Regions from separate parts of the Homo sapiens genome. Here region 2 is linked to region 1. Evidence: fine-mapped expression QTL. A gene starts in region 1. The other region holds a variant in brackets. All regions are shown on one strand. Distances are from middle to middle.

Region 1 (5,000 bases):
GAGCACCTGCAGGAGCAGGCTGAGGGGAAGGTAAGTTGTCTTGACATGCTAAGGTGAGGTGTGTGTAAGAAAGACAAGTGGAGACACCTGGTAGGCAGCGAGATATATAGGTCCAGGGTGAAGGAGAGAGGTCCAGGGTAGAGACAAAGATCTGAGAGGAATACTGAATTAGTGAGGGGAGAGAGAGAATGAGACACCCCATAGACAGCACAGAATAAGGCAGCAAGGTGACGCAGGACAAAGCCTTTAAGTACCTCAACTTTTTGGGTTATGAGTAGGCAAAAGAGATTGAGAAGTGACAGCTTCTTGTCCTGATTGCTAAGCTAAGTGGAAATCTGACACCTTAACCACATGGCTATATCAGAGTGTAGTAATGCACCATCTTCTGTAGCCCCTCCTGCCATGCTGAAAAATCATTCTAGTAAATTCAACATCTGGACCAATCCCAGTCAAAGGAGATGAAAAATCACCTGGCACACAGACCCAATGAAGTATCTAAGGATTCTCCACCAGAAGAAAATCTAGTGCTGACAAACCCATGTCTTTATTCTATCTTCTTACAGGAAGCAGCAAAGACATTTACATTTTCAGGTGAATTGGAATAGCTGCAGAAAATAAGAATTTATCAATATTTGAATACAATAAGGCAAATTATCTCATCCAAATTACCTTATGCCTTCAAATAATATAAAATAATGGAAAATTGTTCTTTAATGGGTAAACTATTGTTTGAGTTTCAACTCTGCAAGATGAAAAAGTTCTCATCTATTTCGCGACAATGTCAATATACTTAACGCTAGTGAACTATGTGCTTAAAAACAATTAAGACTGGCTGGGTGCAGTGGCTCAGGTCTGTAATCTCAGGGCTTTGGGAGGCCATGGCAGGAGGATCCCTGGAGCCCAGAAGTTTGAGACCAGCCTGGGCAACATAGCAAGACCCCATCTCTACAAAAAATTAAAAAATTATCCAGGCATGGTGATGCACGCCTGTATTCCTAGCTACTTAGAAGGCTGAGCCAGGAGGATTGCTTGAGTCTGGGAGTTGGAGGTTACAGTGAGCTATGATCATACCACTATACTCCAGCTTGGGTAACAGAGCAAGACCCTGTCTCTAAAAAAAAAAAAGTAAAGAAAAAAAAACTAAAAAAAAGCTTAAAAGAGTAAATTTTATGTATTTTTATAATTTAAAAATAAATAATAGTATAATTACATTATTAAAATAACACATTCTCTGCTATGGTTTGAATGTCTTCTCCAAGACTCATATTGAAATTTAATTGCTATTTTAACAGTTGAGAGGTGGAACCTTTAAGAGGTGATTAGGACATGAGGAGTTTGCCTTTGTGAGTGGATTAATGCCATTATCACAGGAGTCAGTTATCACAGGAAAAAAGGATAAGTTCAGCCCCCTTTCTCTGTCTCACAGGCTCATTTGCCTTTCCACCTTCCACCATGTGATGATGCAGCCAAAGGCCCTCATCAGATCCCGGCTCAGAACCATGAGTCAAATACACCTCTATTGTTTATAAATTACTCAGTCTCAGGTATTATGTTATAACAGCAGAAAATAAAGACAGTCTCCCAGCACCAAGTAAAGTGAAAGGCCTTGCTTAACACTGGAAGAATATGTCAAAGAATAACATATACTGTGAGTTCCATCACATGTTTAGTGAAAGTACTGTACTTCTGCTCTGAAAAACATATTGTAGTCTATATTTTAGATTTACAATAGGAGGCACCAATGTCGCTTGTTGAAGTGAGACATTTCTCCTCCTATTCCTGGAGACAATTCTGGATAGCATTTCCTCAATCTCCCAGTTTCATATGGTCAGAGGAAACTCCCTTACCTCCCTAATCATCCCGAAACTCACCTTGAAAACATTCACATGCCTCTCTGTCAACGAATCCATCCAAACTTAAGTTTTGCTGAGCAAAGCCCGCTGCCACTAACTGATGCTACCTCTTCTTTTCTCTCTGGAGCCGGGGACACCCTACCTTGTTCTAGACCTTGTCATGTTCTACCTTGTATTACAGTTCACTTTCCATACACGTGTCCTCCCCCACGATACCGTTACGTTTCTTAAGAGGGGATCTGGATCTGAGTCTGGTTCCTCTTGGCAACCACCACACAGCCTAACAGCGTGGTATGAGTCGGCGCCTCCTCAATGATAAAGAATCCTAAAAGGAGTCTCCGCTGGCTTTTCACTGCCACATCCCATTCGGGGGTGGGAGAGAAACAAAGAATGCAAGAAAGAGCGGGCGTCCACCTAACAACTCAAAAAAGTCAAATCTTCCCAACACATGAGTGTCTAAACCATTCAGAGAGCAGGGCAGTAAAAGGGAAAAGGCCGCTTCTGGGACGAGGCGTTAAGAATTAATCAGATACAGTCCTAAGCCGTTTGAGGGGCTCACACACCAGCGAAGGAGGCAGACACTGAGAGGCACGATGACAACACTCGATGGGACCTCGGATCCCCAGGGGAAGGGGATGTAGCTTCCTCCCAACCAGCCTCGGCCCAGCAGACACCACCCTCTGCCGCCCTCAGTAGTTCCCGCACTCACTCTTGTCCAGAGGCCGGGTTAGCTCGGCCCCGACGTCGCCGTCGGCGCTGGGGCCCTGAGGTTTCACAGTCAGGGGCACGAACAAGGACGTGTTTGGTATTTTGGAGCCACCGGAGGCAGAGGAGGAGGCGGTGGCAAGGACAGAAACTTGCCCCAGAACCCCGGGAAAGGGCCCAAAGTGGGGACGAAGGGCAGAGCAGATGGCTGCCCGGTGGCCAGCCTGGCGCCCCGCCGGGAGCCGAGCCCACAATAGGGCACGGGAGAAGGACATCGAGGCCGCAGGTTCTACACTGTCTGGCGCAGCCGCGGACACGGCGGCGGACAGTGACGCGCACCTCCAGCGCCTGCTGTCCAGAAAGACCCAGGCCGAGCAGGTAAGCTGCCCGGGAAAACGCCTGACCGTTAAGGAAAACGCCGTGCCGTGAGGGTGTTCTTTCAGGGAAAAAGAAGATTAGCAGGCAAAACCACTAGAGATAATTCTCGTTCTCTTTCTCTGTTTTGTTGGTGATTGGGACCACCTTTCCCTAAAGAAGGGAAAATAATCAGGCATCTTTGGGATGTCATACATGAGCGGAGGGGGCCTGCTAGTCGTGTCACGTGATGCAAACTAGTACTTTGGTAAGCAAGTGTCCAGAAGCACGTGGGTGAGCAGTGAGAGAATGGGTGGTGGAGCAGCAACTGCGAATGCTCAGGGTACGAGTATGTCTTGCGGACTCAAACACTAAATAGCATTTCCCAAAAGTTTCTTGCATTGTTAACCGTCATTTCCTGATATGATAACGTTAGCGATAATAACTTGATATGCCCCTCAGAAATGTTGCTAAGAAATATTGTTGCACTATTAAACCCCTTGTATTACGTAAGTACTTTTGCTTTAATGTGAGCAGTTTGCGTACATCATCCTAGCAGCTATGACCACATAGTTGTGACCACATGGCAAAAATACGTGCTCTGTACCCCAGCCATAGTTTCGTTCCATTGCATTTGTTGAATACCGTGTTCTCATGTGAGGCTGCAACATGTTAAATTCACAAGTTTAACCCGGGCGTGGTGGTTCACGCCTGTAATCGCAGCACTTAGGGAGGGCGAGGCCGGTGGATCATCTGAGGTCAGGAGTTCGAGACCAGCCTGGCAAACATGGTGAAATCCCCTCTCTACTAAAAATACAAGAATCAGCCGGGCGTGGTGGTGCACACCTGTAATCCCAATTACTAGGGAGGCGGAGGCAGGAGAATCGTTTGAACCTGGGTGCCAGAGGTTGCAGTGAGCCGAGATCGGGCCACTGCTCTCCAGCCTGGGCAACAGAGTGAGACTCCGTCTAAAAAAAAAAAAAATTCACAAGTTTAGCATCTCCATCCACATCTCTTTATACTTACATCATTAAGATCTTACAACTTGAAGGAACGTGTTATGTAATATACAATACTGTATGTCTAATAGGATTCCAGTAACAATTTGCCACGTGCCTTTGATTCACAAAATAATTTTTAAACATCAGGGATACAAGGAGACAGTCCTTTGCTTTCAAAGGTTCTGATCTGGTTTTGGTGGTAAGAACAGTACACGTTAAATAATGCACTTATTACTCTAATAGACTAATGGCAGTTCAAAGAAAGGAGCAATTTGAGAGTGGTAAGGAGATTTCTGCCAGACTTAAAAGTAAAACATAGAGAAGCGGTAAGTAAATTCTAGTCAGTGGAAACGATGTAAGCAGAGGCTTAACTAAGGAAAAGACATACTGAAAAAAATTTAAGTAACAGAGTTAACGCAGACCTAATTCTATGGCTTACAAATAGTGATTATATTTTTGAGAAGAGAAATCATTCATTAGGAAGTACCTAGGATAGACTAGGATAAACACAAATATGCAGGGAGGAAAATTACAACTTTATCAACAGTTCTAGCTGAAGGTGGTAGATTCCTGTGTCTGAGTTATGATGGAGACCATGTATGTGGAATGAGAGGTTTTACAAGACTCCTTAGATAATGTAGTGAGTGACTAAATATGCTAGAAAATGTTAATAAACAATGATGTCTCGTCAGATTTGGAAACTAGGAGAATGAAGGATAAACCAAACGTTTAATACGTAACTGAGGCAAGCACTATGTTGTTCCTTTTAATCTTTTAATATGCTTGACAACAATTTAGAGGTATTATTGTCACCAGGTTAACTAACTTGCCCCAGTAAGTGGTAGAGTCAGATACAAATCTAAATCTTTTTTTTTTCTTTTTTTTGAGACAGTCTCACTCTGTTGCCCAGGCTGAAGTGCAGTGGTGCAATCATAACTCACTGCAACGTCCACCTCCCAGGCTCAAGCAATTCTCATGCCTCAGCCTCCCGAGTAGCTGGGACTACAGGCTTGCACCACAATACCTGGCTAATTTTTGTATTCTCTTTAGTTTCACCATGTTGGCCAGGCTGGTCTCAGAACTCCTG
Region 2 (5,000 bases), 51 kb after region 1:
TGATTTTTTTTTTGAGACAGAGTCTTGCTCTGTTGCCCAGGCTGAAGGGCAGTGGTGCAATCTTGGCTCACTACAAGCTCCGCCTCCCGGGTTCACACCATTCTCCTGCCTCAGCCTCCCAAGTAGCTGGAACTACAGCCATCTGCAACCACACCCAGCTAATTTTTGTATTTTTAGTAGAGACAGGGTTTCACTATGTTAGCCAGGACGGTCTCGATCTCCTGACCTCGTGATCCACTCGCCTTGGCCTCCCAAAGTGCTGGGATTACAGGCATGAGCCACCGCGCCCGGCCCAGAATGATCTTTTTTAAAAAAATTTTTGTAGAGACAGGGTCTCACTCTGTTGCCCAGGCTGGTCTCAAACTCCTGGGCTCAAGCAATCCTCCTGCCTCGGCCTCCCAAAGTGTTGGGATTATGGGCGTGAGCCACTGCACCTGGCTCTGAATGATCTTTAAAAAACATATCTGGCTGGGCGCGCTGGCTCACACTTGTAATCCCAGCACTTTCAGAGACCAAGGCAGGCAGATCACTTGAGGTCAGCAGTTCGGGACAAGCCTGGCCAACATGGTGAAGCCCCGTCTTTAATACAAAAATTAGTCGGGCATGGTGGTGCATGCCTGCAGTCCCAGCTACTCGGGAGGCTGAGGCAGGAGAATCACCTGGACCCAGAAGGCAGAGGTTGCAGTGAGCCAAGATCGCACCACTGCGCTCTAGCCCGGGCAACAGAGCAAGAATTTGTCTCCAGAAAAAAAATGTTCACAAGTGTTATTCATAATAGCCCCAAATAGAAACAATCCAAGTATCAATCAACAAGAGAATGGATATATGCAATTTAGTATATATTCATACAAATGGGAACACCAAACAGCAATAGAATTAGAGGAGATACAACTACACACAAGAATGAATCTCATACACATAATGTTGAGTGAAAGAGGCCAGACACAAAAGGAATACACAAAACGTACGTATAACTCCACTCACATAGTAAGCAAAAAACATGTAAGGTACATTATGGTGTTACAGGTCAGGCAGTGACTGAAAGAAAGCACAAAGGGAGCTTCTGGCTGCTAGTAATGTTCTGGCTGTTTTTTTTATAACTGAGCATTTGATACAGAGGTATTTCACTTGGTGAAAATTCATCAAGCTATACACCTATTCGTGTACTTTTTCATAGTTATTTTACTTCAGTTGTGATTTTAAAAACAGACACACACACAATGTATTCTCTAATGTGGTCTACATATATCTGACACTAGTCATCTCTCCAACTACTCAGCCTCCAACGTTCAGAGCTCTTTCTTCAACAGTTCCAATTTGCTAGTGTCCTTCTTGTCTTAGAGCCAAGCAAAGTATTCTTAACCTAATTCACCCTTTGAGTTTCAGTTTGACTCCCTCTCCATGAGACCTTCCTTGACTTCCTAATCAAAACTGGATTCTCCAAATTTAGGTTTCACAAGGCTTACTTAGTACCTGACTCTCCTACTGAACTGTAAACTCCATGAGGCTCATCTAAGGCAGCGTATGGCATTTAGCAGAAGGCATTAAAATACCTATTGAATGTTAATTTTGAACAAACACATACCATTTTAATAACAGAAAATAAACAAATATACAAGAGAAATTAACTGAAATCTGGAATAGTCAATAATATTAGCCTTTCTGAGCAAATTAGCATTGGTATAGTAGCAAACTATATCAATGGAATTTATATTAAACCTCAGTTCTGTCCTCACTTAGGAGAGTCATTAGTTTGCTTTCTGTTAGCTTGCTTTGTGGCTATGTAGGGCACAAGGTGATGCTATACTCAAATGAGATGTTTTCCTAAATCCTGTATTAACAAAAGGGATTATAATTTTAAGCAACCAACTAAAAGAATTACCAGATTAGTACTTTTGACATATGTAGCAAATTTTCTTTTTGGGCCAGGCGCGGTAGCTCACACCTGTAATCCCAGCACTTTGGGAGGCCAAGGTGGGCGAATCACAAGGTCAGGAGTTCGAGACCAGCCTGGCTAACACGGTGAAACCCCGTCTCTACTAAACATACAAAAAATTAACTGGGCGTAGTGGTATGCACCTGAGGCAGGAGAATCACTTGCACCCAGGAGGTGGAGGTTGCAGTGAGCCGAGATCGCGCCACTGCACTCCAGCCCTCGGGACAGAGTGAGACTCTGTTTAAAAAAAAAAAAAATTTTTTTTTCTTTTTGACACGTTTTAATCTTTTCTGGCAAAATTACAAATAACAAACTCGAATTTTAACCAGAAAACTAATTTTAATCAGAAAACTATTCTGAACTAATTTAGAAAAAAGAGAATGAAAATCATCAGTGATAGGTCACACACACTGTCCATTCCTAGGTGGCTTTCGTACTCCAAGTCTTAAACTCAAAATGGTAAATTCTGAAATACTGTAGTACATTTCCTCTAAGGGCTACAGAAATGAGAA[T/C]GTATAGCAGCTTAAAATCATGCAGCTCACATTTACTAATCGAATATGTGCTGAGCTAGCAGGGTACAGGGGTTGTGTGGGAGGAGCAATCATGAAAGGGTAGAAGACAACATCTTCAAGTAGCAGTCTATTTTAGATGGAAAACAAAATCAGTTATATTGAAGGATAATGCTAATTGGCAGAGAGAGCAATAAGAATGAGCTCTCCTTCCTTATGACATCCACATTTATAACTCATTTGAGTTATAAAACAGAGATAGAAAAATTAAAATTAATTCTTTTTTTTTTTTTTTTTTTTTTTTGAGACAGAGTCTCACTCTGTCACCCAGGCTGGAGTGCAGTGGTATGATCTCAGCTGACTGCAACTTCTGCCTCATGGGCTCAAGCAAGCCTCCCACCTCAAGCCTCCCAAGTAGCTGGGACTACAGGCGTGAGCCACAACACCTGGCTCGTTTTTATATTTTTTGTAGAGACAGGGTTTCTGCCACATTGCCCAGGCCAGGCGCAAACTCCTGGGCTCAAGTGATCCACCCGCCTCAGCCTCCCAAAATGCTGGGATTACAGGCGTGAGCCACCTTGCTTGGCCTTAAAATTAATTTTCTCATTCCTCCTGACACTTCCCAGAGCTACTTAAAAGAAAAATGAGATTTGAAAACTATAAAAATTGTTTTACAGAGAAAAGGAAATATTATAACTTTTTTCCACATGCATATACCTAAACACACAGAGTTCCACTTGGGATTTGAAAGCTGACATTAAAAGATCAAATCGCCAGGCGCGGTGGCTCACGCGTGTAATCCCAGCAGTTTGGGAGGCCGAAGCAGGAGGATCACAAGGTCAGGAGATCGAGACCATCCTGACTAACACGGTGAAACCCCATCTCTACAAAAACAGAACAAATTTGCCAGACGTGGTGGCATGCACTTGTAGTCCCAGCTATGCGGGAGGCTGAGGCAGCAGAATCGCTTGAACCCAGGAGGCAGAAGTTGCAGTGAGCCGAGATCTTGCCACTGCACTCCAGCCTGGGCGACAGAGTGAGATTCTGCCTCAAAAAAAAAAAAAAAAAAATCAAATCCCAAAGTTAAATAAAATTTTGATAGAACTAAAATTGCCACCAATTAAAATGGTATAAACCAAGTTCATTTTATAAAATTTCACAATTAACACCATAATGATAAACAGTGTTTTGACACCATTCCTTAAATATTTAAATTCCTAACCATTAAAAATATGTGAAAAACTACGTGCTATCCTCTATTATTTTCTGGATGCAAGAAATATTTCATAATTTTAAAAAAAGTAGCAGAACACAGTGGCTCACACCTGTAATCCTAGCACTTTGGGAAGCTGAAGCAGGAGGATCACTTGAGCCCAGAAGTTCAAGACCAGCTTCGTCAATACAGCTAGACCCCCATATCTACAAAAATTTAAAAAATTAGCCCAGCATAGTGGTGTGTGCCTGCAGTCCCAGCTACTTGGGAGGCTGAACCCAGGAGGTCGAGGCTGCAGTAAGCCACTGACTGGGCGGCAGAGCAAGAGCTTGTCTCAAAAAAAAAAAAAAAAAAAAAAAAGATATTTTTAAATACAATCAAAACACTAAAATTGGAAGCAATCAAATGGCATTTTTAAAAAGCCTAGTATAGCATATGCAAAAAAGTAATAGGTTGAGTAATAAATTACTGCACTTTAACCAGTTATTCCATGACAATATGGCATTGGGTTAACATTCAGGTTTTTTTTTTTTTTGAGATGGAGTCTCGCTCTTTCGCCCAGGCCGGAGTGCAGTGGCGCTAGCTCGGCTCACTGCAAGCTCCGCCTCCCGGGTTCATGCCATTCTCCTGCCTCAGCCTCCCGAGTAGCTGGGACTACAGGTGCCCGCCACCGCGCCTGGCTAATTTTTCGTATTTTTAGTGGAGACGGGGTTTCACCGTGTTAGCCAGGATGCTCTTGATCTCCTGACCTCGTGATCCGCCCGCCTCGGCCTCCCAAAGTGCACCACGCCCGACCAACATTCAGTTTTTTTACATTAGGGCATATCGAAAATGAACTAGTCAGCCAGGCACAGTGGCTCACACCTGTAATCCCAACACTTTGGGAGGACAAGGCGGGCGGATCACTTGAGGTCAGGAGTTTGAGACCAGTCTGGCCAACATGGCGAAACCCCGTCTCCACTAAAAATACAAAAAAAAAAAAAAAAAAAAAAAATTGGCCGGGTGTGGTGGCGCATTCCTGTAGTCCCAGCTACTCAGGAGGCGGAAGTTGCAGTGAGCCAAGATCGCGCCACTGCACTCCAGCCTGGGCGACAGAGCGAGACTCCGTCTCAAAAAATAATAATAATAATAAAAGAACTAGTCTTACTAAAAAACACCTCCAGAAAATTGTGGATATCTTACATTTTACAGGTAGAGAACAAAAAGAAAAAAATAACTGAGGAAAAAAGCTTGTCTTTTAGAAAGAACTGAAAGAGAAAGATCTCTACCCAAAGTCTCTCTTTCAAAGTTTTTTCTAAGATGTGCAACTTCTGTCATTTGAAATAAAGGGTAATGAAATTAA

What was found.
Region 2: its variant is fine-mapped to the expression of SUPV3L1 in lung (TOPMed, PIP 0.91).

Annotation. Positions count from the first base shown.
Region 1 is chr10:69,178,125-69,183,124 of GRCh38, reverse strand. It overlaps SUPV3L1 (Suv3 like RNA helicase), which reads right to left and starts at 2,891. Exons shown (of 15, transcript NM_003171.5): 1 at 2,563-2,891. The coding sequence starts at 2,833. RefSeq lists an enhancer at 2,807-3,176.
Region 2 is chr10:69,126,746-69,131,745 of GRCh38, reverse strand. The region is part of intron 1 of VPS26A (VPS26 retromer complex component A); the gene reads right to left. Among named protein-coding and RNA genes, the nearest start is that of VPS26A, 5.1 kb to the right of the region's middle. The variant T/C (reference allele first, on the strand shown) is at 2,449.